Homo sapiens: one gene and its partners. The protein of the gene in region 1 purifies or fractionates together with the protein of each later gene. This does not show direct contact. Each region holds a gene or a part of one and is shown in the gene's direction. Other genes may lie near its edges.

Region 1 (7,032 bases):
GAGGAGGCACAGGCCATCTTCCTGAGACAAGTGATTCTTCAGATGCTGACCTGCTCCTCAGGTGGAAGCGTGAGGTTCTCAGGTTGTCTGAGTGGTCAGTAAGGGTCTTCCATGTGGTCTAAGAACTGCTCTGGGTCCATAAATGCTGTAGAGACCAGAAGGGGGCTCGGAAGGGGTGCTTTGTGGCGAGAGAAGCTGGCTTTGAGGCTGGTCACCACCGTGGGCCCAGCCATTCTGAGAGCTGGCCACCCTGATTGCAGTGAAATGTTGGTGTCTCTATTTAACCTGGACATGTCCTGAAAATAATAGAGCAGCTTTTATTCCCAAAATCCACACACTGATTTTTTTTTAAGCAATAAACTTTAAAAAATATTATAAATTACACATAACATAAAAACCAACAGCTCAACTGTTTTTAGGCATGCAGTTCTGTGGCATTGTGTTCATGTCATTGTGCAATTCACACTGAGAATTTCATGTATTTTCTTACAGGAGGTCGTTCAGCTACCTTTAGAGTTTGTGAAACAGCTTTGTTTAAAGATACAATCTGAAAGACCAGGTAAGGGTGTTTAACTTACAGATATTGTTTGTAATTTAAAATATTCCATTTGAAAAGTGTTTGAAATGATTACCCATGTTAGGTATATGCATTTTTCAGTAATCCTTTTTTTTTTTTTTTTTTTGAGACGGAGTCTCACTCTGTCGCCCAGGCAGGAGTGCAGTGGTGCGATCTCGGCTCACTGCAAGCTCCACCTCCCGGGTTCACACCATTCTTCTGCCTCAGCCTCCCGAGTAGCTGGGACTACAGGCGCCTACCACCATGCTCGGCTACTTTTTTGTATTTTTAATAGAGATGGGGTTTCACCGTGTTAGCCAGGATGGTCTTGATCTCCTGACCTCGTGATCCACCCACCTCGGCCTCCCAAAGTGCTGGGATTATAGGCGTGAGCCACCGTGCCCAGCCAGTTTTCAGTAATTCTTTTGCCAGAAACTTCATTATCAGGGATAGAAATCCTGGGAGCTCATGGATACAATTCTCTGTATCAGAAAACCACAGCACTGCACAGAATATGTGATGAAGAACCAGTAAAGGCAGGTGCGGTGGCTCTCGCCTGTAATCCCAGCACTTTGGGAAGCTGAGGCAGGCAGGTCACCTGAGGTCAGGAGTTCGAGACCAGCGTGACCAACATGGTGAAACACCTTCTCTACTAAAACAAACAAACAAACAAAATATATATATGTACAAAAATTAGCTGGGCGTAGTGGCGGGCACCTGTAATCCCAGCTACTTGGGAAGTTGAGGCAGGAGAATCGCTGGAACCCGGGAGGCAGAGATTTCAGTTAGCTGAGATCACGCCACTGTACTCCAACCCCAGGTGACAGAGTGAGACTCCGTCTCAAACAAACGAACAAAAAAGAACAAATTAATACCACAGAAAACAACATGAGGGAGGAGCTGGAGGTGGAGGGTCTGGGGCAGACTTAGGAACGGGAAGGGTTCCCAGAGGCCTGGGAGAGGCAAAAGGAAACTGAGGTGACCTGAGCTTCAGGAGGGAGGGCCTGGCCCAGGAGGGTCTGCAGCCCAGGGAGCTGTCCCCAACCGGAGTCTAGGCTAGGTCTGTGTCCTTCTGAGGAACAGGGAATCCAAGGGCCTTCTGTGGCATCACCTTCCCCATCCTCATGTTGTCCTTCCCCAATCCCCTCCCATCCCTTCGCCTCTCCCTTTCTCCTCCATCCCCACCCACTCCCTTTTCTGCACTTGCTGGTGGCCTTATGACAGGAATCAGGTCAAACCTTTTTTTTCAGTCAGTGATCAAAGAGATAAATTTCGTGAGTTGAGGGTGGAAATGCCTCTGCCCGGAGCACAGCCAGGCAATGAGGGTGTGGAATTAGCCAGTATAAAATTTTTTCCTGATTTGATTTGGAAAATGAAAGCAAACCATTCTCTGGGTCTGCAGTCTCTGGCTGGGGCAGGGAGGAATGGGCTTCACACTGCAGGAAAGGCTGGGGAGGCGGGAACGCCACAGGACAGTGGCTAGGCTCCAGTTCTTCCTCTCGGTGAATGCAGTCTGAGCCCGGCTCCAGGGTGCTGTCTGCAACTGCTCTGCTGCTCAGCCTGCCATTTCATAACAACCGTGGGAGGTTTATCACACCACAGTGATAAAAACCAGACTTGGAGTAAGGCTCATTATGTTAAAGGAGGAAAGCCTGTCCCTGGGGTGCCTGGAGCCCAGGCTTGTTTGGTTCTGTCCACACCACGGGTTCCAGCAGATCTGGTGCTGGGGAAATATTGGTGCACTGGGGACTGGGAAGGGCCTAGATGTGAGAGAAGGTAGAGCCTGCAGCCCCCTCCTCTTCAAGTTCCTGGGCTAAGGGTGTTGTGGAATTAGGGGACCATCCCCAAGACCACCCTCAGGATTGATAATACGCTAGAAGGACCAACATAACTCACTGTTTTACTTATGGTTATGTTTTATTGCAGGAAAAGGATAAAGATGGGACCAGCCAAGGGGAGAGGTGCAGGGGTGGGGTCCAGGAGAGACCTGGCATGAGCTTCTGGGTCCTCTCCTCAGGGGTGGTGTGGGCAGTATTCACTCTCCCATATGGAGTGTGCCCACCAGGAAGCTCACCAGGCATTGTTGTCCAGAGTTTTCACTGGGGCTCAGGCACATCGACATGGCTGACCATCGGTGTGGCTGACTGCAGTCTCCAGCCTCTCCAGAGTTTGAGCCGATACCATAAGGCGTGAAGCTACCCCCTACATAAACCAAGTTATTTTTTGTTTTTGTTTTTGTTTTTTTTTTTGAGATGGAGTCTTGCTCCTTCGCCAGGCGGTAGTGCAGTGGCGCACAATCTGGGCTCACTGCAACCTCCTCTGCCTCTCTGGTTCAAGCAATTCTCCTGCCTACGCCTCCCGAGTAGCTGGGATTACAGGTGCATGCCACCACGCCCAGCTAATTTTTTGTATTTTTAGTAGAGATGGGGTTTCACCATGTTGGCCAAGATGGTCTTGATCTCTTGACCTCATGATCTGCCCACTTAGGCCTCCCAAAGTGCTGGGATTACAGGTGTGAGCCACCGTGCCCGCCTTTTTTTTTTTTTTTTTGAGACAGAGTCTTGCTCTGTTGCCCAGGCTGGAGTGCAGTAGCACGATCTCGGCTCACCACAACCTCCGTCTCTAGGGTTCAAGCAATTCTCCTGCTTCAGCCTCCCGAGTAGCTGGGACTGTAGGCACGTGCCACCATGCCTGGCTAATTTTTGTATTTTTAGTAGAGACGGGGTTTCACTATGTTGGCCAGGCTAGTCTCGAACTCCTGACCTCATGATCCACCTGCCTTGGCCTCCCAAAGTGCTGGGATAACAGGTGTGAGCCACCTCACCTGGCCTAAACCACGTTGTTACTGTGTGTGTCCCACAATCCCCAGGGAGACATGAGGTTTTCATCAGGTACAGAGATGCCCCCTGGAACCAGGGACAAGGCGGGGCCTGTTTTGGGCAGGGATCATCTCATCTCTCTCACTGACCTTGCTCTGTGTGACCCTTGCTCTGTTTTCCAGAGTCTCGCTGTGACAAGGACCTGGATACTCTCAGTGGTTACGCTATGTGCCTTCCTAATTTAACCAGACTCCAAACCTACCGCTTTGCAGAGCACCGGCCGATTCTGTGTGTAGAGATTAAGGTGACCTGTCGAGGGGCAGATGGTGTGGGTAAAGGGGAAAGGTCAGTCTTGGGTAGTAAGTCCAAGAGTCACGTGCCTTGGGTTCCAGTTCCCACTGAAGTGAGTGGTAGGCACCCTTGGCTCCTGGAAACTCCACTTGTTTCTGTCCTTCCACAGCCCCCACCTGCGTTCTGGTTCCTGCCATGGCTCCCAGATCCCAGGTTTAGGCTCATTCCTGGTAGCTCATGATAGAAGACCCCACCCACCCTGCATGCCTGGGCTAAAACAAGCCCTGGTTGAGGGTCACCAGAGGGAAGCGCGTTGGGTCCCCCTGACCCGTTTTCCTCAGAGGGCACAGCTTGCCAGGGTCCTCTGGGTTCTTCCTCTGTGCCCCTCCCTGCTGGCCATGCCTGCTTGGTGCTTGGCTGCTGTTTGCTGTGCTGCAGGAGCCCCATCTGCAGGTTGCCCTGTAGACTGGGGAGCTCTCTTTGTCCTGCTCAGGACGAATTTTCCTGGAGGCACAAAGGCCAGTGTGACCCTCAGAGGCACTGGTGTGTCATGGCCAGGAGTCCTGAATTTCTCTGGTGCCAGGCAGTGGGGGCTGGATGGGCCAGGGCCCCCCTTGCTTCAGCTCTCTGCTTCCCATGTCGGGGGTGGCTGTCAGGGTCCCTCAGGAAGCTGCCTCACATGCCCTGGCCTTTGTTCCCCTCCTCCAACTCTAAGGCAGCAATTTCTGGGTCACACTCCTGGCCTGAGCTCATGCCTCCTGATCCTCCTCACTTGTGGGTGGATGTTCTGCTTCCCCAGCCACCATCTCCAGTGCCCGAGGCTCAGCACAGGCCTGCGTGTGGTGTATGCTCAGAGGCTGCAGCTTTTAGAGGGCACTGGGGCTTCCTTGACCTTCTGGGAGCCTAGCAACTATCAGATGGGCCTCTGTCGGGCCATGTGCTAGTGTCAGTGGGAACAATGGTTCCGATTCTTGGAGCTGGGAGTCCTGGGTCCATCTCTACTACTAGAGGCTTGCAGTCACATTCTTGAATGAAAGCATGAAGCTATTGTGTGTTGTGCTTGTGTTGAGCTAGTGCAGAGGCACCACTGACCCTCCCCAGTGAGAGTTCCGGCCGTGGGTCCTCTAGCGGAGATGTTTGTGTGATCTGATGCAGGAAGTGTTGTTCCCGCTGGGAGGTGCAAATGAAAACAGCTTCTGGGGCCATTTATGCCTAATTATCTTGCTGCACTCATTATCTTGTAGTCAGTGATATGTCTATTTAGAGGTATGTGATTTCTTCCTAAATATTTTTCCTCCTTATTTGTTTATTTTACAGCCAAAATGTGGGTTTATTCCTTTCTCGAGTGATGTCACGCATGAGATGAAGCATAAGGTCTGTCGATACTGCATGCACCAGCACCTCAAGGTGAGAGCCAATGCCCAGCTGTGGGCTACTCTAGCTGCACGCTGGGGATCTGGGCTGAGGCATGGACACACACAGTTTTCAGAAGAGTAAAAGAAAATATGGATATTTTTAGTTGACATTTTATTTCACAAAGTGATTCATGTTCAACTTTTTTATTTTTTAAATTTAGAGACAGGGTCTCTGTCACCCTGTCAGGCTGGAGTGCAGTGATGCAATCATACTCACTGCAGCCTCCACCTCCTGGACTCATGCAGTCCACCTGCCTTGGCCTCCCAAAGTGCTGGTGTGAGCCACTGCGCCCGGCCCGTGTTCACCAGATTCACTCTTTTAAATATATAATTCAGTTTTAGTCTCTTCACAAGGTTGTACAATCACCACTTCTATCTAGTTGCTGACATTTTTATCACTTCAAAGCAAGGTGTCTTCCTCTTTCTATGAATATGGTATATTACATGATTTTCGCATGTTGGACCAACCTTGCATTTCTGGGATAAATCCCAGTTGCTCATGGTGTATAATACTTTTATATGCTGCTGAATTCAGTTTGCTAGTTTTTTGTTGAGGGTTTTTGAATCATAAGGGATGTTGGTGTGTAGTTTTCTAGTGGTGTCTGGCTTTGGTACTAGTGTAATAACTGGCTTCATGGAATGAGTTAGGAATTATTTTCTTTTCACTCTCCAGTTTTTTGAAGGAGTTTCAGTATTGGTATTGATTCTTCTTGAAATGTTTGGTAGAATTCACTAGTGAAGGCATTTGGTCCTGGGATTTTCTTTGTTAGAAGATTTTTGATTACTGATTCAGTCTCTTGTTACCAATCTGTTGAGATTCTCTTATTTCCTGAGTGGGTTTTTTTGGTAGTTGTGTGTTACTAGGAATTTGTCCATTTTCATCTAATGTGATGGCATACAGGTCAGTAGTAGTGTCCCCTTCTTTCATATCTGACTTTAGTAATTTGGTTTCTGTCTCTTTTTCCTTGGTCTAGCCACAGGATTGTGTCATATTTGTTGATCTTTCAAAGAAACAACTTTTGGTTTTATTCAGTTTTCTGCTCCCCTCTCCCCCATTTTCTATTTCATTTGTCTTCACTTTAATCTTTACTGTTTCCTTCCCTGTGCTTGGATTGGGCTTAGTGTGTTATTCTTTTTCTAATTTTATTTTTTTATTTTTTTTGAGACGGAGTCTCGTTCTGCACCCAGGCTGGAGTGCAGTGAGTAGCTGGGACTATAGGCGCCCGCCATCATGCCTGGCTAATTTTTTGTATTTTTAGTAGAGACGGGGTTTCACCATGTTAGTCAGGATGGTTTCAATCTCCTGACCTCGTGATCCACCTGCCTCGGCCTCCCAAAGTGCTGGGATTACAGGTGTGAGCCACCGTGCCCGGCCTCTAGCTTTTTATTGTAGAAAGTTAGGTTATTCATTTAAGATCATTCTTCTAATAAATCTTTAAGTAACTGCTTTCTCTTCATCCCATACATTTTGGTATGTTGTGTTTTCATTTTATCTTAATTCATTCTCTGATTTCTCTTTTGCTTTCTTCTTTGACGAACTGATAATTAGGAGTGTTTACTTTTTACACATTTGTGAGTCAAATTTTCTTTTGTTACTGATTTCTAGTTTCATTCCACTGTATTTGGAGAACATTGTTTGCATGATTTCACTCTTAAAATGTATTGAGACTTGTTTTGTGGTTTAACATAAGGTTCTTCCTCAAGACTGTTCCATGTTTGCTTGGGCAGAATGTGTAACCTGCTGTTGCTGGGTGGATTTTCTATAGATGTGTTCGGTCTAGTTGGTTCATAGTGTTGTTCAAGCCTTCATTCTTGTTGACTTTCTGCCTCGTTGCTCTGAGTGTTAATTTAAGATAATAACCTGAACAGTCTAGTTCAGGTTAATACCAACTCCATTTCAATCATAGACAAAGTTTTGCTCCTCTAAAGCTTTGCTCCCTCCCCCAACCTT
Region 2 (7,032 bases), on another chromosome or scaffold:
CATGGTCCTGAATCACGGCCGAAAGGCACCTTTCTACCCCATCCTGTGTTATGTCTGGACCTTCTGCTGGATGGAGTTTGGGGCAGGGTGCCCTCTGCGCAGCCCTCCCCTGAATATCCCCATTCTCTGCCTTTACATGCCTGGAGGGTGGAGGGGAGAGATTTTTTTTTTTTTTTAATTTTTCCCTGAGACAGAGTCTTGCTCTGTCGCCCAGGCTAGGGTGCAGTGGTGTGATCTCAGCTCACTGCAACCTCCGCCTCCTGGGTTCAAGCAATTTTCCAGTCTCAGCCTCCCAAGTAACTGGGATTACAGGCGCGCACCACCACACCCAGCTAATTTTTGTATTTTTAGTAAGAGACGGGGTGTCACCATGTTGGCCAGGCTGATCTCGAACTCCTGACCTCAGTTGATCCGCCCGCCTTGGCCTCCAAAAGTGCTGGGATTACAGGCGTGAGCCACCGCACCTGGCCGGAGGTGGGGAGATACCTTGCAGCTCATAGTGACCCTGGGCTTTTGTCCTTCTGGGGTAGACTAGAGGATAAATAGCTGGAATTCAGGCAGCAAGGCCCTCTTCTCTGCTTTTGGCAGCCATGTTGCAAACTTATTAGCCGGAGGTCTGGAGGTCCTGCTAACCTTAGAACCCCAAGCCCCACCCATCCCACCCTGGCCCACACAGCCACAGGGTATTTGCAGAAATCTGTAGATCTGGACATGGGGATTCACAGATAAACCTGTTTAGTGTTGGTCTTTTTTCTTTGAGGGCTGAGACCTTCCCTCTCTCTCTCCCTTTTTGGGTATAAGCTAGTTCTGAGGGTATAAGGATTTTTTTTTAGTGAGGGGTGTGGAAGCTATGCCTGGAGGTAATTATGAGAATGGGTGGGACTTGAGGGAGGAGAGAGGTTCGGGTTGGTGGGCTGGGGACTCCCGCTGACAGCCCTCTGTTCCCCCAGGGTTTCTGTTCCTGGCTGACAGCCATCTTCAGGATAAAGTAAGTGGACCATCTTCAAGCTCTAAAGAAAGAGAGAAACTTCAGAACCTGGCATCTCCCTACAAAATTCAGAAGCCAGCAGCTTTCAGGGCCTTAGCACTCCTCGCCAGCACAGCACCCTCCTCCCTGCTCTCAAAGGCCAAGCCTCGGGTGCCTGAGCCTCTGCTGTACCCTGAACACTCACTTGACCCCATAATCTCCTCTGTGACCCCCTGCCGGCCCCCCCGCTTCTCTCCCTGCCCTGCCCCACCTTGAGGGAGGGGGTGGAGCCCCTGCCTCAACCTCTGTGCAGCCAGTGAGTGGGGGCAGCAGTAGGCTGGGAGCAGCCAGCCAGCTGCAGGCAGAACTCAGGAGATCCAGCCAGAGTCCAGCAGGCAGGCAGTGAGCGCTGAGAAAGGCAGGAAGCCAGGACAGGTCAGCACTGCCGCCACCACTCCCCCAGGCCTCCCCCAAGGGTACCCGGGCTTCACTACGCCAGGCTCAGCCACACCCATGAGGTGCTGCTGCCCCTCCTCCCATCCTTCCTTCACTTCTGCCTCTTTCACCACTCCTCCTCCTGCTGGTCCTCCTCCTCTCTTGCCTTCCTCCCTCCTCAGATATTTCTCTTTTTTCTTCCCTTTTCTCTGCATTCCTCATTTTTCTTCTTCCCCTTCCTGTCTCTGCAGTCTCTTCTTTCTTTTACCTATCTTTTCCTTCTAGCCCTCTGCCTTCATCCCTCCCCTTCTCCATGCATTTCTCCTTTTTCTCCCTCCCCCTCTCTTCTCCCTTTCTCCCCTCTCCCTTCACAGAAAATAGGGGACCAAGAAGTCCCATTTCAGCCCTATACTACTGCCAGATCAGCTGGAGCTAGGGTGGGTTTGGGGTGGGAGTGGGTGAGGGCAGGCAAGTTGCAGCCCCCTTCTTGCCCTGGTCCTAACCTAATTCCTTTGTCCAACCCGTATGGCTGCAGGGATGATGAGATCCGGGACAAATGTGGGGGCGATGCCGTGCACTACCTGTCCTTTCAGCGGCACATCATCGGGCTGCTGGTGGTTGTGGGCGTCCTCTCCGTAGGCATCGTGCTGCCTGTCAACTTCTCAGGGGACCTGCTGGGTCAGTGAGGGCCAGGACGGCTAGGGTGGAGAGAGGATGGGGCTGGAGGGGATGTGCCCTGACCCCACCATCATCCTCTCCCTCTTCCCACCCCACAGAGAACAATGCCTACAGCTTTGGGAGAACCACCATTGCCAACTTGAAATCAGGGTAAGATGCGAAGCTGGTCGGCCAGGCCAAGGTCTACGACCAGAGTCTGGGCCATGATGTGGGACAGGGAGGAAAGGCAGCTGCGTTGATGGGAGCAGAGCCTACAGGGATGGCTATGGGTCCCTGAGGGCTTGGGTTGGAGACAGAAGAGGGAAATGCCTGCTGAGGATCCCCCAAGGATGAAGAGGATACAGAAGAGGAGGGTGAAATCTCAGGAACCAGGGAGGGCCAGCTGGGGCAGTTGGAGACACTGTAACCAGTGGGTAGGGCGTAGAAAGGTGACCTATCAGGGATATTTTCATTGGAATCGAAGAATTTTGGTGTCTAGGGGATGTGGGATGTGGGCCTGCCTTGCGAGGAGTCAGTGCCAGAAGGCTGGTGGCAGTAGAGGGCCCTGTCTGTATCAAGGGTTTAACACTGACAGGCTGAGGTGTCTCCTCTGAGTGTGTCCTAGCCCCAGTGGCTCCCATGTATCCTCTCTGCTTCTCCCAGGAACAACCTGCTATGGCTGCACACCTCCTTCGCCTTCCTGTATCTGCTGCTCACCGTCTACAGCATGCGTAGACACACCTCCAAGATGCGCTACAAGGAGGATGATCTGGTGCGTGGAGCAGAGCCCAGGTCCTGCCCCATCCCCAGCCTCTTCCCTTCCCTTCCCTGCAGGCCTCTTTTGTCTCAGCCCCAAGAGGTGTCAGCTAGGTTTGAATGCTGGCACAGCAGCTCAGGAGCTCCCATCCTGCAAGTTACATAACCTCCCAAGCCATGATTTTCTCATCTGTAAAATGGAATAACAACAGTACCTCCCCCAAGGTTGTGGGGAATACACAGAAACAGCCGTGCTGTGCCCAGCACTTGGGAAAATAGCAGTGGCTGATCCTAGGATAGTAATATTCCTTCCCCTTCTACATGCACTCACCAAGCCAGAACCGGACACCTACTCCATGCCAGCCACTGTGCTGGGTTCTCAGGGTCTAAGGAGCTGAAAGTAGTACCCCCTTCTGCCTCTATAACCCCTCAAGAGCATGGGACGGCGTGGCTCTTTTGTTAGGCTCACTGCCTGATTTCTGTTGGAAACACTCCCCTGCTTTCCCTGGGACCTGGCTTATCCATAACTAAGGCCTCCTCCCACCCCATCTGTTCCCCTCTGCTCACCTACTTCTCTACCCACTCAAAACAAAGCCTCTTTCTCTAGTGCCCCCCACCCCTCACATCCCCTGGCTCCACTGGGGTCAAGCCTCAGAAGGCAAACCCACTCCCCTGTCACCCAGGTGAAGCGGACCCTCTTCATCAATGGAATCTCCAAATATGCAGAGTCAGAAAAGATCAAGAAGCATTTTGAGTGAGTAAGCCACGCTTCCCCCTACCCTCAAGCCCTGCTGCAGAGCCTTCTCTGCCTTTGAACTCTAAGAACATCCTTATACCCTAGCCTGGAGCTCTGCCGTGGGTGGGATAGAGATTAGATCCAGGAAGAAATGTCCGATTCCAGGGTGGTTTAGCACTTGGGTCGGGTGATAGGCCCCTTTAAGAACAGGAAAAATAAGACAAAAACCTGAAGAGTGAGTCATTCAAACCCCCTAACCCCCAAACCTCCTCCTGGCTCAGACTGGGTCATAGGTTGTTGACCCAGGTCCATTGGAGTACATATCTTCTTCAAAATTAAAAGCAGCATTCTGGAGTTTGTGTGCAGCCATGACAGGGAGAAGCTCCTTGGTTTCCAGTGGATTCCAAGGAGTCCAGGAGAACTTGAACTGTGTATTCTCTGAGGCTTTTTCAGCTCTAGAATTATGTTTTGGGGTGGGTAGAGCAGACCTATGGCCAGAAACTAGAGAAAAGGGAGGTGGTATAATGAGGCAAAGAGGGAACTTACCTGGTCACCCCATGGCTAGGGATGCACCTTGGGGCGCAGCTCATAGGGTGGGGAATCAGTGAAGGGCCCCTCCATGGGGGTGTGTAGGGACAGTCTCTATACCACAGGATTAGGGCTACTCTCACACAGGCATCTGTTCACTCAGCAAACTTTCTCAAGTGCTGTTAGTCATAAGTTACTGTGGTGGGCTTTGGGACTGTAAAAAATGAATGAGGCCAGGCATGGTGGCTCATGGCTGTAATCCCAGCACTTTGGGAGGCCAAAGTGGGCAGATCACTTGAGCCCAGGAGTTGAAGACCAGCCTGGGCAACATAGCAAGACCCCATCTCTACCAAAAAATACAAACTTAGCCAGGTGTGGTGGCGTGCGCCTGTAGTCCCAGCTACTTGGGAGGCTGAGGTGGGAGGATCGCTTGAACCCAGGAGGTCGAGGCTGCAGTGAGTCCTGTGCACCACTGCACTCCAGCCTGGGTGACAGAGCAAGACCCTGTTTCAAATGTTTCAAAAAATAAAAAATAGAAGAGGCCAGGCACGGTGGCTCACGCCTGTAATCCCAACACTTTGGGAGGCCCAAGATGGGAGAATTACTTGAGGCCAGGAGTTCAAGACCAGCCTGGTCAGTATAATGAGACCCCATGTCTTAAAAAAAAAAAAAAAAAAAATCATTGAGGGCCGGGAGTTTGAGACCAGCCTGGCCAATATGGTGAAACCCCGTCTCTACTGGTGAAACCTTGTCTCTACTGAAAATACAAAAATTAGCCAGGCATGGTGGCGCGTACCAGTAGTCTCAGCTACTCAGGAGGCTGAGGCAGAAGAATCGCTTGAACCCAGGAGGCAGAGGTTGCAGTGAGCCGAGATTGTGCCACTGCACTTCAGCCTGAGCGGCAGAGCGAGACTGTCTCAAAAAAAGAAAAAAAAATCATTGAGTTCTCAGGGGGTTCATAGTATGGCAGTCGGCTTTAGGAGCTAGTCCAGGGTCTGATCAGAGATTGCTCTGAGGTCAGTCTGTGGTCAGAATCAGGAGCTGGCCAGTGGTCATGATAAAGGATGCTGGTGGTCTGGATCATGGCCCAGACTGAGGTTGAGATTTGGGCTCAGTCTACCATCAGAATCAGGGTTTAGGCCAGGTGTGGTGGCTCATGCCTGTAATCCCCTTGAGAAGATTGCTTGAGCCCGGGAGTTTAAGACCAGCCTGGACAACATGTCGAAACTCCATCTCTACAAAAAATATAAAAATTAGCCAGACATGGTAGCATGCACCAATAGTCCCAACTACTCAGGTGACTGAGGTGGGAGGATGGCTTGAGCCCAAGAGGCTAATGCTGTGGTGAACTGATTGCGCCACTGTACTCCAGCCTGGGTAATAGGGCAAGACCCTGTCTCAAAAAAGAAAGAAAGTAAAGAATCAAGGTTTAATCTGAGGTCCAGACCTGTCAGTTGGCCAGAATCAGAGTTCACTCATTGTCCTGGGTCAGGCCAGTGTGTGATCCAATCAGAGATAGTGTTTGGGCAGGATTGAGAGTGAACATCTATCTGGTCAGGGTCAGATTCCAGAGCCTGTGTTAGAAGATTAAGGACTGGTGTGTGATCAGCATTAGTAGATGGATACTCTTTCATACTACATGCAGTTATTGACAACCTTCTATGTGCCAGGCACAAATAAATTAGAAACAAGCCCAGCCCTTATACAGGCTATAAAACAGCAGTCAAAATTAGATCATTCTTGTCAGTATGAGAGAACTATTTGGGGTCCTATCTGAGGTTCAAGCTGTCATCAGCATTAAAGGGCACTCTGGGTCAGGATTAAGGACAGTGTGTACTCAGAATTAGTGACATCTTTTTTTTTTCTCATACCATCTTTTGTAACAATGAATTAGGTGACATCTTAATATTACCATCCAGTTGGAATCAGTTGTCAGCTTGTATTGAAATCTGGTGTTTGTTGTTTTTGTTTTTGTTTTTGTTTTTTGATACAAATATCTAGTGAGCACCTGCTATGTGCCTGCTTGGGGAGGAGCTGGGGGTATAGCAGTAAACGACAGAAGGCCTGCCCTCATTTGCTTTCATTTTAGTGGGGAGGGGTGGACAGGGACCGGATGAACTAGTAATAGAGACTGTGTCAAGAAGAGGTAGGTGCTAAGAAAACCACAGCAGGGAAGCAGGCAGGGTAAGAGGGGTTGGGAAGGGTTGCTATTTCTGATGGGATAGACAGGGAGGGACTCTGACAGCGTGGCATTTGAACAGAGACCTGAGTGAACCCTACTAGTCAACTGTCTATTCATTCAGCCCACATTTATTGTATACCTACTATGTGCTTCATGCCTGGGAGACAGAGTATAATCAGACCTGATCAGTGCCCTTGGGAAGCTGAAGATCCTAGTTGTGTTTCAGGGGTTGGTCTATAGTTTTGTTTAGGAGAGGTCAGCCTATAAGCAGGGGTAAGGGAGACTCTAGTCCTAATTGGAGTTTTTTGGATCACTGGGATGAGCATTATGGAGTAGCCATTTCATTGATCCGCTCATTTACCACATGTGTATTGAACACCTGCTATATACAAGCTGTTGGGACAGGGCTGGGTATATGGTGAGGACTAAGAGACAGCGCTTGAGCTCATTGTCAGGATTAGGCAGGGCTTGTGGTCCAAGTCTGCAGTCTGTCTGGATTGGAAGACTGTCTCAGCACAATTAGGAAATATCTTGCATGCAAATCAACGGGCCTGTGTGGTTGGATTTAGAGGATTAGAGATGAGTTTAGTGAGAATGAGAGCTCACCCTTCCAAAGGGGAAACCTCAAATGGTTTGAGGAACAATATCAGAGGAAAGGTCTCTAGCCTCCTGGGAAGTACATCTCAAGGACCCTATCCCAGATTTAAGTTTCTAAATTCTCATGGGTTTATGAGGACTATCTTAATACTTTAGAACAGTAACTCATGCATT
Region 3 (7,000 bases), on another chromosome or scaffold:
GTTAGGATTTCAACCCAGGATTGCCTGACTCCAGAGTCTGGTCTTAACCATTTATCATACTCTGCCACTATGCCACACTGATCATTTTATGTCCTTTTTACAGGTTTGCCAATAGGATTATCCTGCTGCCATCATGTCTTGGTTTGTTGATCTTGCTGGAAAGGCAGAAGATCTTTTAAACCGAGTTGATCAAGGGGCTGCAACAGCTCTCAGTAGGAAAGACAATGCCAGCAACATATATAGCAAAAATACTGACTATACTGAACTTCACCAGCAAAATACAGATTTGATATATCAGACTGGACCTAAATCTACGTATATTTCATCAGCAGCTGATAACATTCGAAATCAAAAAGCCACCATCTTAGCTGGCACTGCAAATGTGAAAGTAGGATCTCGGACACCAGTAGAGGCCTCTCATCCTGTTGAAAATGCATCTGTTCCTAGGCCTTCATCCCATTTTGTGCGAAGAAAAAAGTCAGAACCTGATGATGAGCTGCTGTTTGATTTTCTTAATAGTTCACAGAAGGAGCCTACCGGGAGGGTGGAAATCAGAAAGGAAAAAGGCAAGACACCTGTCTTTCAGAGCTCTCAGACATCAAGTGTCAGTTCTGTGAACCCCAGTGTAACCACCATCAAAACCATTGAAGAAAATTCTTTTGGGAGCCAAACCCACGGTAGTTAATCAGTCCTCTTATTTCTTTTAGAGTTAAGCAAATTGAATGTGTCATCATATGATCCGATGGTGTTTCTCATCTACTGTTATGGAATCTGTCTCCACTGGTGTAAGGGCAGACTCTCTGCAAATGTGTGGTGTAAACAAGGGAGACATCATTGACTACTATTAGTCAATAGACAGTTGTAGCAGGGACTTCATGTTGTCTGGAGGGCAACTTCACCCACTCAGCATCTAACAAAGTATTTCAAATTTGTTTCTCTAAGACATTTTAAGATTAAAAAAAGAAAATTTTGAAATCTGAAAGAAAACATGTCAGTTTGGATCGGGGACTATCCCAGTTGATATCTTTTTGTTACTAGGATTATAAAAATGACAGGAGGCTGTACTTCACGTATTTTCTGGGTTGTGTTTTTTGTGTGTTTTTCCCCCCACATCCTCCACAAATAAAGCTGAGAGACTGAACTTTGATCCAAGTTGAAGAGTTGAAGGCATTGACCTAGTAGTGAAGCAAGAGCTTAGAACTCTTGTTTTCAATTGTTTAATTCCCTCTGAGATTACCTCTACAAGTACACCTTCTTTCTTGTGAAATGAGATTAACGTGGTAAATGTGGCTAATTCAAGTACCTACTAACTGTTTTAAAATAGCTATAGGCTGGGCGTGGTGGCTTACACCTGTAATCCGAGCACTTTGGAACGCTGAGGCAGGCAGAGCACTCGTGCCCAGGAGTTTGAGACCAGCCTAAACAACATAGCAAAACTTTGTCTCTACAAAAAATACAAAAATTAGCCAGGCACAGTGGTGCATGCCTGTAGTCTCAGCTACTTGGGAGGCTGAGGCGGGAGAATTGATTGAGCTCAGGAGGTCGAGGTTGCAGTGAGCCGAGATTGTACCACTACACTCCAGCCTGGGCCGTAGAATGAGACGCTGTCTCCAAAGATAAAAATAGAAAAAAGGCAAAAAACTTGATAGTAGGTTCTTGCAGGGATTCTTTTGTTGTTTTGAGACAGGGTCTTGCTCTATCGCCGAGGCTTAAGTGCCGTGATGCTATCACAGCTCGCACTACCTTTGACCTCCCCAGGCTCAAGCGATCCTCCTGCCTCAGCCTCCTGAGTAGCTGGAACTATAGGTGCACACCACTGTGCCCAGCTAATTTTAAAAAATTATTTTTAATAGAAACAGTGTCTCACTGTGTTGCTCTGGCTGGTCTTGAGCTCAAGTGATCCTCCTACTTTGACCTCCCACAGCATTGGGATTATGGGCATGATCTACCGTGGCCTGGCCATAGGGATTTTTTTTTTTTTTTCTTTTTTGAGACGGAGTCTCACTCTGTCACCCAGGCTGGAGTGCAGTGGCCTGATCTTGGCTCACTGCAAGCTCCACCTCCTGGGTTCATGCCATTCTCCTGCCTCAGCCTCCCAAGTAGCTGGGACTACAGGCGCCTGCCATCACGCCTGGCTAATTTTTTTTTTTTTTTTGTATTTTTAGTAGAGACAGGGTTTCACTGTTAGCCAGGAGGCTCTTGATCTCCTGACCTTGTGATCCGCCCGCCTCGGCCTCCCAAAGTGCTGGGATTACAGGCGTGAGCCACTGTGCCTGGCCTTTTTTAATGTTTTTATTTATTTATTTATTTATTTTTTTGTGAGACGGAGTCTCGCTTTGTCGCCCAGGCTGGAGTGCAGTGACGCGATCTTAGCTCACTGCAACCTCCACCTCCTGGGTTCAAGCGATTCTCCATTTCAGCCTCCCGAGTAGCTGGGACTATAGGTGTGCACCACCACCCTTGGCTAATTTTTGTATTTTTTGGTAGAGATAGGGTTTCATCACGTTGGCCAGGCTGGTCTTGAACTCCGGACCTCAAGTCATCTGCCCACCTTGGCCTCCCAAAGTGCTGAGATTACAGGCGTGAGCCACCACACCTGGCCAGGGATTCTTTATAGAGTTGATTATTGATGGGAGATTGTCATGTTCTTGGATGTTATAGCTTCTTTCATTGTCTTGGCTGTTAGTGAATAAAATCTTTCTTGTATTTTCAAGACAAAAACTTGTATAGAAGAAGACGTTTTGGGTTGTGAAAATAGGATCAGGCAGTAGCAGTTGATTAATATGTTCACATATTCCAAAATTTCTTCTCAGCTATCTTTCAATTAATTACACAAAGAACCTACTAGGTGCAAGGATATGGAAGTGTCCAGTGGGTGAGCTAGACATGTAAACAGATAATTTACTTGTGGTCTAGTAAATGTAGCAATTAAGTATGGTCAGAGTGTTGTGGAAGTATGAAGGAGGAAGTAACTAATTGCCTAGGGTATTCAGAAAGGATTCACAGAGGGTCTGTATTTTTAGCTGGGTCTTAAAGAATGAACAGGAGTTTGCCAGGTAAAAAGTTAGAGACAGCATTCCATGCAGAGAGAACAGACTCTAAGAGGCTAGTAGAGTAGAAAACATTGTAACAAAGTTGGAAACACTGAGTGAGTTGGAGGGTGATGAAGAAAATGTAGCTAGCAAACAAAGTTGGGACCTGTTTGTGAAGGCCCTTGTGTCATACTGTTTATGCAATTAAACCCATTACTTCTATAATCATTGTTAAAGATTGATTCCTGAACAACAGGCTTTAGAATCGCTTGTGTGTTGTTAATTTAAAAATGAATTATTGAGTGCCTTCCCAGGCTTCCTGAATCGTTATTTTCTGGGGATGGAGCCAGGGCATCTGATTTTGTTGTTGTTGTTCTGTGGGTGGTTCTTAGCCAATAAAAGTTGAAAGTGGCTGCCATAGCCAGTGTGATGCTAGTAGAGATCTTTAAGTCAAGAGTTGACATAGCTTATTTTTGTACTTTTAAAGAAAGCAGCTTGCATTTAATTAGAAAGAATGGACCTAAAGGGAACCTCGTTGTCAGGGAAATGAATTAGAACTGGTTATAATACACAGGAGTTATAAAAATTGTTTCTCTTGGGTAGGACCTCTCAACCTTGAGACTTGGTGTTTTGGGCCAAATTAATTCAATAGTGTGGGAAGCCCTCCTGTTCTTTGTAGGATGTTTAGCAGCATCTCTGGCCTCTTAGCCCATTAGGTGGTAGTAGCACCCCCAATTGTGACAACCAACAATGTCTCCACAAATTGCCAAATGTCCCTTGCAGGGCAAAATCATCCCAGTTGAGAACCAATGTCCTGAGATGCCTAGAAATGTGTAGAAATGGGATTGCTGAGCTGTAGGGTTTAACAATGTTCAGCTACACTAGTAATGCCAAAGTGGCTTTCTGCAGAGGTTGTGCCAATTTATACTCTAACCAGCTATGGTTAAGAACTTCTTTTGCTCCACATTTTCACCAACATTTTTTATTTTCAATTTGACTTTTTACTTTTTGCTGATCAGATTTGTCGTTGATATTATTTCCTTCATTACTAGTGTGGTTGAAGATCTTTTCAGATATTTGACTATTGAACTTTCATTTTCTGGAAGTGTCAAGTCTTTTTTATCAACTTTTTTCTGTTAGATTATTTGTCTTTTTTCTTCTTGATTCATAGACATTCTTTATATATTCTAAATTCTAAATTCTTTTCCTCCTCCAGTTTTACCTTGGTTTTTCCCCTCCCCTCTGTCTATGGCATCTCAATGAATAGAAGTTCTTAATGTAGATGGCATGTGGCTTGTGTTTTTTGTGTCTTGGAAAATCTTTCCTTACACTGAGATCATAAAGATATTTTTCTGTATTGTCTTCTATAGTGTGCGATAGGCATTCAATTCCCTTTTTCTTTTTTTTTTTTTTGCCATAGGGAAATCAGCTATTCTAGCATCATTTATTGAACAGAGTCTCTTGTCCCTACCAATTTGCAGTACCACCTGTCTTATATATCAAGTATTCATTAGTGTGTTTCTGGCCACTTAATTCTGTTTTATTGGTTTATTTGTGTATCCTTGTGCCAGTGCCACCCTGTTTTAATTAATGTAGTTTTATGTGTCTTGATAACTGATAGGGTAGCTTCTTCCACCTTGTGGTCTTTCTTCAGAAATGTTTTGGCTGTTCATGGACCTTTCCACTCCTGTATGCATTTTAGGATTTGCTCATCAAGTTTCACAGAAACTCTGTTGGTCTTTTTATTGGGAATTAATTGCTTCTATATAGACAGTTTGGTGAGAGTCAGCACTTTTGCTATACTGAGTTTTCTTATCCACCAATGGGATATAATTTCAACATATTTTGTAGTGTCTTTCATTAAAATTTTATTGTTTTCTCCATAAAGATCTTATATACTTTATGTTAGATTTATTCCTAAGTAGTTTATATTTTTTGAAACAATTATATGTGGTATTCCTTAAAATGTTTTGCTTTGTTATTGCTGGTGTATTTTTTGTTGTTTTTTTGTGTGTACATACATAGCAATCTAGATGGCTCTTAATCTTCATGTTTTTCTGGACATAAATTTAGATTTTCAACAACACAATTATCTGTGTATAATGACAGTTTGTTTCTTCTTAGCCCTTTTATCTTTTAAAAAATCCTTTTCTTCATTGGCTAGGACTCAACGACCAGTTTTGTATCTTGTTCTTTGTCTTAGAGGGAATACTTTGTTTCACTAAGTATGATTTTACATTAGGTTTTTTATAGTTTTTTTATTTGTTTAAGGAAGTTCCCATAAATGTCTAGTTTGAGGTTTTATCATGTTGAATTTTAGCAATGTTTTTTCCTCTACCCTTGGAGATAATATAGTTTTTCTTCTTTAATATTAATATAGTATACAAATCAATTTATTTATTTTTAATAAATCAATTTATTTATTTATTTTTAATAGAGATGGGATCTTGCTGTGTTACCCAGGCTGGAATGTAGCGGCTATTCACATGTATGATCATAGTGCACTGCAGCCCCAAACTCCTGGCTCAAGTAATCCTCCCACTTCCTCCTCCCAACTCACTGGGATGCAGGTGCACACCACTGCACCTAGCTCCAGCTCCAGTTGATACTTTTAAATATAAAACCAAACTTAACTTTCAGTTTGCTAATATTCCCTTTAGGATTTTTGCATTTATTTAGTTAATTTAATTTTTATTTATTATTATTTTTATTATTTTGAGACAGGATCTCACTCTGTCGCCCAGGTTGGAGTGCAGTGGTGGGATCTCAGCTCACTGCAGCCTCAATCTCCCAGGCTCAAGCAATCCTCCCACCTCAGCCTCAATAGTAACTGAGACTGCAGGCACACACCGCCATGCGTAGGTAATTTTGTTCATTTTTTGTAGAGACAAGGTCTCACTATATTGCCAGGCTAGTCTTGAACTCCTGAGCTGAAGGGATCCTCCTGTGTTGGCCTCCCAAGTGCTAGGATTACAGGCATGAGCCACCACACCTAACCTTTTGCATTTATTTTATAAGCGAAATCGGCCTGCGATATTGTTAGGTTTTAGTATTACAGTTATATTAGCCTTATCAAATGAATTGGAAAGTATTCCTTCTTTTTCTGTTGTGTTAATTAATTGGTGTAAGACTGAGATTATTTATTTCCTGAACGTTTGCTAGAACTCTGTGCTAAAACCATCAGGACCTGGGGTATTCTTACTGAAAGGTTTTAACTATTGATTCAGTTGGCTTTTCATTTCTTCTTGAATCTGTTTTTGGTAAGTTACGTTTTTTTCCCCAAGAATTTGTCAATGTCATACACATTTTGAGGGGTTATACTTATTTAATTTCAGGAAAATAATGTAGGGGTCACAGCTGAAACTTTCAACGCAACCAAACATTAGTTATTCATACCAACCCTGCAAAAACCAATGCTTGATCATGCATACTGTGTGAAGAATATCAGTATCTGGCATATATTGAATCCTTACCCTGTTTCTGGCACTGCACTAAATGCCTGCTTTTTAAAACAGCTTTAATGAAGTATAATTCACATGCAATAAACTGCACGATAAGTATTGTGCAATTGATAGATTTCAGTATCTTGTACATTTTAAAATTTGATGGCCTAATGTTGTTTATATCTGTCCCAGGGAACCACTTTTGGTTATGCTGATCCTCTCTAGTATGTTTATTTCCTCTTTTGTTAATTTTTGCTTTCTTTGGGTTTGTTCTGCTGTTTTTATAGTTTTTAAGATGGATATACAACTCATTAGTTTTCTTCCTTCCTGCCTTTCATCTTTAATGTAACCAAGGCTATAAATTTCCTTCAGAATACTGCCTTAGATATCATCCCACATTTGGATATATACTTAATTTATTTTTTGAATTTTAATATTTTATTTTTTATATTATTTAAAAATTTTTTGTAGAGACGAGTTCTCACTGTATTGCCCGGGCTGGTCTCCAACTCCTGGACTCAGGCA
Region 4 (7,592 bases), on another chromosome or scaffold:
GCAACCTCTGCCCCCCGGGTTCAAGCGATTCTCCTGCCTCAGCCTCCCGAGTAGCCAGGATTATAGGCGCCTGCCACCATACCCCAATAATTTTTATATTTTTAGTAGAGACGGGGTTTCGCCACGTTAGCCAGGCTGGTTTCAAACTCCAGACCTCAGGTGATCCACCAGCCTCGGACTCCCAAAGTGCTAGGATTACAGGGGTGAACCACTGTGCTCGGCCTTCTTGGGAGATCTCTTCCAATCTTGTGGCTTTAAATATTCTATACAGTCTCAAATGTAACTATCTATCTCCAACACCTTCCCTGAATTCCAGGCTGCTTACTTGACATCTACACTCAGATATCTGTCTAGGACATCTCTCGAAGTTAACATTCAAAACCAAATGCCATGCCATAGTTTTTGTTGTTCTTGTTTTTGTTGTTGTTCTTGTTGTTGTTGTTGAGACGGGAGTTTCACTCTTGTTGCCCAGGCTGGAGTGCAATAGTGCGATCTTGGCTCACCGCACCCTCCACCTCCGGGTTCAAGTGATTCTCCTGCCTCGGCCCCCTCAGTAGCTGGGATTACAGACATGCACCGCCACAGCCAGCTAATTTCGTATTTTTAGTAGAGATGGGGTTTCTCCACGTTGGTCAGGCTGGTCTCGATCTCCCAACCTCAGGTGATCCGCACACCTTGGCTTCCCAAAGTGCTGGGATTACAGGTTTGAGCCACAGTTTTCAATTAAAAACTTCTCCTTTCTGGCCAGGCATGGTGGCTCACGCCTGTAATCCCAGCACTTTGGGAGGCCAATGCGGGTGGATCACAAGGTCAGGAGATCGAGACCATCCTGGCTAACACGGTGAAACCCCATCTCTGCTAAAAATACAAAAAATTAGCTGGGCGTGGTGTCAGGCGCCTGTAGTCCCAGCTACTTGGGAGGCTGAGGCAGGAGAATGGCGTGAACCCGGGAGGCGGAGCTTGCAGTGAGCAGAGATCACACCACTGCACTCCAGTCTGGGCGACAGAGCGAGACTTCGTCACAAAAAACAAAACAAACAAAAAAAAAACTGCTCCTTTCCAAAATTCCCTATCTCAGTAAATAGCACCAGCAAGGCCCTGCTGTTCGGGATACACATTTTGGAGCAACATCTATGCCTCTCTTTCTCTTATATCCCATCTGCAAATGTTGTCAACTCAGCCTTCAATATATGGTACCAAGCCCAACTCATCTTCCCCTCTCCACCATCCCCACCTTAGCCCAAACCATCATCACCATCTCTCTGCTTCCAATTGCCTCTCTGTAGTCTCTTTCCCACACAGCAAGAGTGACCCATTTAAACATAAATCAGATTGTTACCTCTGCTCATTACCTCTCTGCTCGAAGTCCTCCAATGGTTCCCACCCTTCTCAGAAAAATCTTTGCCACGAATTACGAGGCTGTACGTCTGGACAGGTTCCAGAGTTTTCCTTAGACTTTGCAAAAGTTATCTTAGAGCTGTCTCATTGTGCTGGGTGCAAATTTTGTTTTAAAGAGAAAGTTATCACATATTTTCTCAAAGAAGCATCTCTGAAGGCATGTAATATGTTTGAAATACTTATCTCATCATTAAAGCTTTAGTAAAATGAAAAATCTACCAGCCATGTTCTCTATACTCAGCGATTTTCCAGACTTCAACGCCCTGGAAGCAATGATTAAAGTTTTTCTTTGCCTTCAATTATCTGAAGGGTTGGGCTGCCCCTCCACACCTGTGGGCATTTCTCATCAGGTAGAATGAGAGACTTGGAAAAGAAAGAGACACACAGACAAAGTATAGAGAAAGAAAAATGGGCCCGGGGGACTGGCGCTCAGCATACAGAGGACCCGCGCCGGCACCGGCCTCTGAGTTCCCCTAGTATTTATTGATCATTATCAGGTGTTTCCTGGAGAGGGGGATGTGGCAGGACAATAGGATGATAGTGGAGAGAAGGTCAGCAGGTAAACACGTGAACAAATGTCTCTGCATCATAAACAAGGTAAAGAAAAAAGTGCTGTGCTTTTGATGTGCATATACATAAACATCTCAATGCCTTAAAGAGCAGTATTGCTGCCAGCATGTCCCACCTCCAGCCCTACGGCGGTTTTCCCCTATCTCAGTAGATGGAATATACAATCGGGCTTTACACTGAGACATTCCATTGCCCAGGGACAAGCAGGAGACAGATGCCTTACTCTTATCTCAAATGCAAAGAGGCGTTCCTTCCTCTTTCACTAATCCTCCTCAGCACAGACCCTTTACGGGTGTCGGGCTGGGGGACGGTCAGGTCTTTCCCCTCCCACGAGGCCATATTTCAGACTATCACATGGGGAGAAACCTTGGACAATACCTGGCTTTCCCAGGCAGAGGTCCCTGCGACCTTCTGCAGTGTTTTGTGTCTCTGGGTACTTGAGATTAGGGAGTGGTGATGACTCTTAACAAGCATGCTGCCTTCGAGCATTTGTTTAACAAAGCACATCCTGCACAGCCCTTAATCATTTAACTCTGAGGTGACATAGCACATGTTTCAGGGAGCACAGGGTTGGGGGTAGGGTTACAGATTAACAGCATCTCAAGGCAGAAGAATTGTTCTTAGTACAGAACAAAATGGAGTCTCTTATGTCTACTTCTTTCTACACAGACACAGTAACAATCTGATCTCTCTTTCTTTTCCCCACATTATCAAGTCAAACATCCTCTCTTCTGTGAAGGCTTCTCTTTGTGCACTGCCCTCCTACTCCATCCCCAGTCCCAGTACCCTGCAGAATAAAATGTTTCTATCTCTGTCTCCTTAGCTTTGTGTCCATACATAGATATTGAAAGGAAGTCTGTGGAACTTGTGTCTGCCTTGTATTACTACTGTGGAAGGGACAATAAATTTATTAACTCATATTTTTAAAATATGCATACATACTGTATTTAACCTAAGACTTTTTTCATATTTTAAAGACTGGAATTGAGATATGTCTTTCAATCTACATGTTTAGAAAGCATAACTTATCAGTTTTTTTTTCTTTCTTGGTGGTACATAAAATAATGGTACCTTAAAATTGATGCTATCTTACATTTTATTAAATATGGAATAGAAATCTTATGTGTCTGTGCTCCTCATTCTTTATAGCAAAAGTTTAATACATGACATCATTCCATATGACAGTTGATTATTTTTGCCACTACTGGGGCTCAAACCATAATACCCCAAAATATGATGTTTTGGCATGCTGAGTCTTTGGGGTTTGTTTGTTTTGAGATGGGAGTCTCACTCTGTCGTACAGGCTGGAATGCAGTACAGGCTGGAATGCAATGGCATGATCTGGGCTCGCTGCAACCTCCACCTCCTGGATTCCAGCAATTCTTATGCCTCAGCCTTACAAGTAGCTGGGATTACAGGCACCTGCAACCACACCCGGCTAATTTTTGTATTTTTAGTAGAGACGGGTTTTGCCATGTTGGCCAGGCTGGTCCTGAACTCCTAACCTCAAGTGGTCCACAACATTGGCCTCCCAAAGTGCTTGGCTCCCAAAGTGCTGGATTACAGGCATGAGGCACCACGCCCGGTGGCATGTTGAGTCTTTGAATTAAAGGAAATTAAAAGGGTCTCAGAAAGAAGCCTAAAAATCAAGGCCTCTCTCTCTCACCTTCCCCCTTCCTTTTGTCTCTCTGATACTCTTACTTTTTCCAAGCACCTGAAGGGGCTCTCTTTTCCTGCACAGCCAGATAAGGAATTTCCTTATCTGACAGAGAAAACTCTTTTCCAAAGAAATGCAATTGTCTTAAAACCCGTTCCTTAGGAATCGCATTAAATAATCAGAAGAGATTAATCACCCAGAGAAGAGACAAAAACTGAAAGTCATAGCCACACTGAGACTTTTCATAGATACTTCTGAGGGTAGCTCCAAGAGATTACCTGGGAAACTTTACCTGTATAATAGGACAATTTTTGTTCAGAGTGAAGTTTCACAGCTTGTCCACAAGCGATTGTTTGTACTTCTGTCCCACTGAATGTCCAAGGAGAATCATTTGCAAACCACTGTCTGGCTTTCGGGCCCATTCATACCTATCTCCCTCTACTCAACAAAGAAGGGTATACAAGCATCTGGACCTTAATTGAGTTATTGAGTAATCACTCTTCTGTGATTTTTCCCTATGCACGTTAAGCAAATTTTGTATGCCTTTTTCTCCTGCTAATCTGTCTACTTAGTTCATTCCAGCAACTTTCAGAGGGCAAAAGTAGGAGCTTTCCCTCTTGCTCCCTACACCACGTTAAATTTAAATATAAATTAAATGATGTGGGAATGGGTAACCTGCTCATTTCCAAACTGCAATTTTCATAGGTATGAAAATTCTCCACAAACTACAAAACCATGACACTCCAAGCGCCCAAGAACCTAGGTTGGACAGCTCACTTAGTGCAGGTAAACGTGCTCCACCCATCTCCCAGCCCGCCTGCCCCCTCACTTAGGTACAGGTGCAGGTACAGGTAGGCAAGCAAACGTCTATTGGCTGTGGACTTAACAGGCTCGCCCACAGGTACCTTCCGAGCATGCGTGGGGAAGTAGCACGCAGGCGCGGCACGCCCCGCGCATGCCTGGTGCACAGAGTCTGCAGGTCGGGCGGTAGCGACAGGTCAGAGCTGCGGCCTGAGCAGCCAGCGTCCGGCATGAAGGTCTGGGGTCTGGCTGCTGCCTGCTTCTTGCTCCAGCACCATGGAATGCCTGCGCAGTTTACCCTGCCTCCTGCCCCGCGCGATGAGACTTCCCCGGCGGACGCTGTGTGCCCTGGCCTTGGACGTGACCTCTGTGGGTCCTCCCGTTGCTGCCTGCGGCCGCCGAGCCAACCTGATTGGAAGGAGCCGAGCGGCGCAGCTTTGCGGGCCCGACCGGCTCCGCGTGGCAGGTACTGCCCTTCCCCGGCAACAGCCTTGGGACGCTGGTCTTGCAGTGACCTTAGACTGCTGCCCCAGCCGTCCGGCGCGGCGCGCCTGTTGCTCCGCGCCCTCCGCAGGCCTCGGCCTCCCGCGTGTCCTGTGAGCTTGCACAGGCCCGCGGGCCGAGCTGCGTCCCACTCGCTCAGAATGCGACCTTGCTATGTGCGCTGTGCCCTGCCGGGGTCCCAGCGGCCAACCCTCTGCCTTCTCCTCCACCGCCCTTGCTGCAGATTATGTAACCATAGGAACAACCTAGGAATCGTTTACAGACCGTGATCACGTTAGTTAACACCCGCTTAAGTGCTCTTGTAAGAGGTTTTTTCTGTGTTGTTTTTGAGACAGGGTCTTACTATGTTGCCCAGGCTGGACTCAAACTCCTTGCCTCGAGCCATCCTAACGCATTAGCCTCGCAAAGCGCTGGGATTACAGGCGTGAGCCACCACACCTGGCCGAGAGGTGTTTTTAAACAAGGATTTCATCTGTTCGGAAGTCATAAGTATAAATTAATACTTCCCTGTTTTCTGTTTCTTCGTTATGGACACATTTATACAGTTGTCCAGTTGCACGGAGATTGGGGACGCACCTAGAAGTGAGGCTAAAGACTGAGTTGTTTCTGAGAACGACTTACTTTCAACTACAGTACTCTATAAGTAAACAGCCAGGGAGATCGGATTGAGAAAAAAAAATCTTATTTGCTGTTTATTTTTTCACCAAATGTTGAAGCATGGTGAAAAGTTAAGATTTTCACAAATGTGAGTGCAAATATTTGAGGAATAAAAGGTATTGAAATGAATGACTTTATTAAGAACATAGCAGTGTCCTCAAATATGTTTTCTCAATTGTGCTCTCAAAAGCCTCCCAAAGTAACTCCTCGTCAGCACCTCATTCTCCACTTATTGGAGAGGCTAAGTTGGGTTACATGCTCTGCACCCTCAATTGATAATGCTTGGGAATCCAGTTTCAGCAAGTTGGAGGAAACTTTTAGGACAAGCATTGACGTTCACAATCTCAATCCCGGTTACACTCTAATTTGTGACATTAAAACATTGAAAGGCATTTGTAATCAGCAAATGCCTTTTACCTTTATTCATCTTACCCTTATAGTGATAATTTGTATTTTGTAAAAGGGAAATGAAACTTCAGATACTAACAAATTACAACAATCATTACGTGTATGTAGTAGAAAAAAGATCAGAAATAGGTTTTTTTTTCTACAGTCTCTGGAATCAGTGTAATTACTTTGGAAGCACAAAACAGTGTCCTCTGTCAGTCATTAAATGTACTTGATTATACTTCACCGCTCACTTCGACTCAGTCTAATCACGTTTTAAATAGACAATTTTAAAATAAAGATTTGTCATTTCAGCTCAGTGGGGGTATTTCATAAGTATTCACTATAAAGGATATCTGTAGAAAAGAAGTAAAATCATAGGTTTCATAATTTATGAGCCAGTCAACTGGAATGCTTGAAAGATCAGGTGGTACTTAGGACCTATGTTTTCTAAAATGTATCTACTACCAAATGTGCATGAAGAGTCTTTTAAATTATGCGAAAAGGAAGACCAGACATTTTCTTAAATCTCAGAACACGATGTTGCACATTTGTTCATCCAACTCTGAGATATCAGTAATAATTAGAAAGGTAAAAGGGTGATTGGAATCCATCAGTTATTTTAATGCCTCACCTAAGCCATTAGTTTTAAAAATCATTCCCTGCCAAACCTAAGATAGTCACTAACAGATGTTAAAATTAAGAAGAGTATTTCTTCTTTTCTTATAGGAAAAATATTTAAAAATAATAAAATAGTCTGAAGGCCTCCACATACTTTGAGAGTTGTATTTTAGCTCTATGTGAAAACCAATCATGTGACCACAGGAATTCTCTTAATTTATTCTTCAGGTGAAGTGCACCGGTTTAGAACCTCTGACGTCTCTCAAGCCACTTTAGCCAGTGTAGCCCCAGTATTTACTGTGGTGAGTATGTACAGTACATTGGAAATCGTACAGAAAGTGCTTCCCATACATAAGTTAACTCGTTGGACTGTTGGCCAAGATACTACTTATTTTGAGCTTTATAATCATCATAGCTACATGTCGTGGCTGTTGTGCCTGGCCAGTGACCTAAGTGCCTGCTAGATTTGCTTAACAATGATCTTGAACCTTTGCTAATGACTGCAGCTCCCCTTTTAATACTAGAACAGGTCAATCACAATTCAGAGCCATAAAGAGGCTTGAACCTATGTTCTGCAAGATAATACGCAGGCAGAAGCATTTTGAAGGCAGCAGAGAGTAGTATTTAAAAATGCATGCTTTGAAAGGTCATGATCTCTAACTTTTCTCTGAAATGGTTCGGGGGTGGGGATGAGGGGGGAAATGAATGAATAAGATAATGTATCACACGTATTTTTAGAGAAAGAAGGCTGTTGGGGCAAAATGTTAACAAAGGTGACTCTAGGTGAAAGCTCTATGGGAATTGGTTGTAATATTCTTGCAACTTCTTTGTAGGCTTTTTTTTTTTTTCCAAAAAAAAAAAAAGTCTTGATAAAAAGGTGTGCCGGCCGGGCGTGGTGGCTCACGCCTGTAATTCCAACACTTTGGGAGGCCGAGGTGGGCAGATCATGAGGTCAGGAGATTGAGACCATCCTGGCTAACACAGTGAAACCCCATCT

Evidence for each region.
Region 2: the proteins of IPPK (region 1) and TMEM63B purify together in Homo sapiens (affinity purification with mass spectrometry; 2 studies listed by BioGRID and IntAct, with this or other methods). This does not show direct contact.
Region 3: the proteins of IPPK (region 1) and GOLGA5 purify together in Homo sapiens (affinity purification with mass spectrometry; 2 studies listed by BioGRID and IntAct, with this or other methods). This does not show direct contact.
Region 4: the proteins of IPPK (region 1) and MRS2 purify together in Homo sapiens (affinity purification with mass spectrometry; 2 studies listed by BioGRID and IntAct, with this or other methods). This does not show direct contact.

Annotation. Positions count from the first base shown.
Region 1 is NC_000009.12:92,646,100-92,653,131, reverse strand, and holds part of IPPK (inositol-pentakisphosphate 2-kinase), read left to right. Parts: intron 1-492; coding exon 493-559; intron 560-3,557; coding exon 3,558-3,679; intron 3,680-4,983; coding exon 4,984-5,073; intron 5,074-7,032. UniProt on the Homo sapiens protein: Phosphorylates Ins(1,3,4,5,6)P5 at position 2 to form Ins(1,2,3,4,5,6)P6 (InsP6 or phytate). InsP6 is involved in many processes such as mRNA export, non-homologous end-joining, endocytosis, ion channel regulation.
Region 2 is NC_000006.12:44,137,530-44,144,561, forward strand, and holds part of TMEM63B (mechanosensitive cation channel TMEM63B), read left to right. Parts: intron 1-950; coding exon 951-988; intron 989-1,937; coding exon 1,938-2,080; intron 2,081-2,178; coding exon 2,179-2,230; intron 2,231-2,722; coding exon 2,723-2,831; intron 2,832-3,498; coding exon 3,499-3,569; intron 3,570-7,032. UniProt on the Homo sapiens protein: Mechanosensitive cation channel with low conductance and high activation threshold. Osmosensitive cation channel preferentially activated by hypotonic stress.
Region 3 is NC_000014.9:92,797,305-92,804,304, forward strand, and holds part of GOLGA5 (golgin subfamily A member 5), read left to right. Parts: intron 1-103; 5' UTR 104-133; coding exon 134-677; intron 678-7,000. UniProt on the Homo sapiens protein: Involved in maintaining Golgi structure. Stimulates the formation of Golgi stacks and ribbons. Involved in intra-Golgi retrograde transport.
Region 4 is NC_000006.12:24,398,345-24,405,936, forward strand, and holds the start of MRS2 (magnesium transporter MRS2 homolog, mitochondrial isoform b precursor), read left to right. Parts: upstream 1-4,591; 5' UTR 4,592-4,702; coding exon 4,703-4,892; intron 4,893-6,823; coding exon 6,824-6,897; intron 6,898-7,592. UniProt on the Homo sapiens protein: Magnesium transporter that mediates the influx of magnesium into the mitochondrial matrix and regulates magnesium metabolism. Also permeable to calcium, sodium and potassium ions.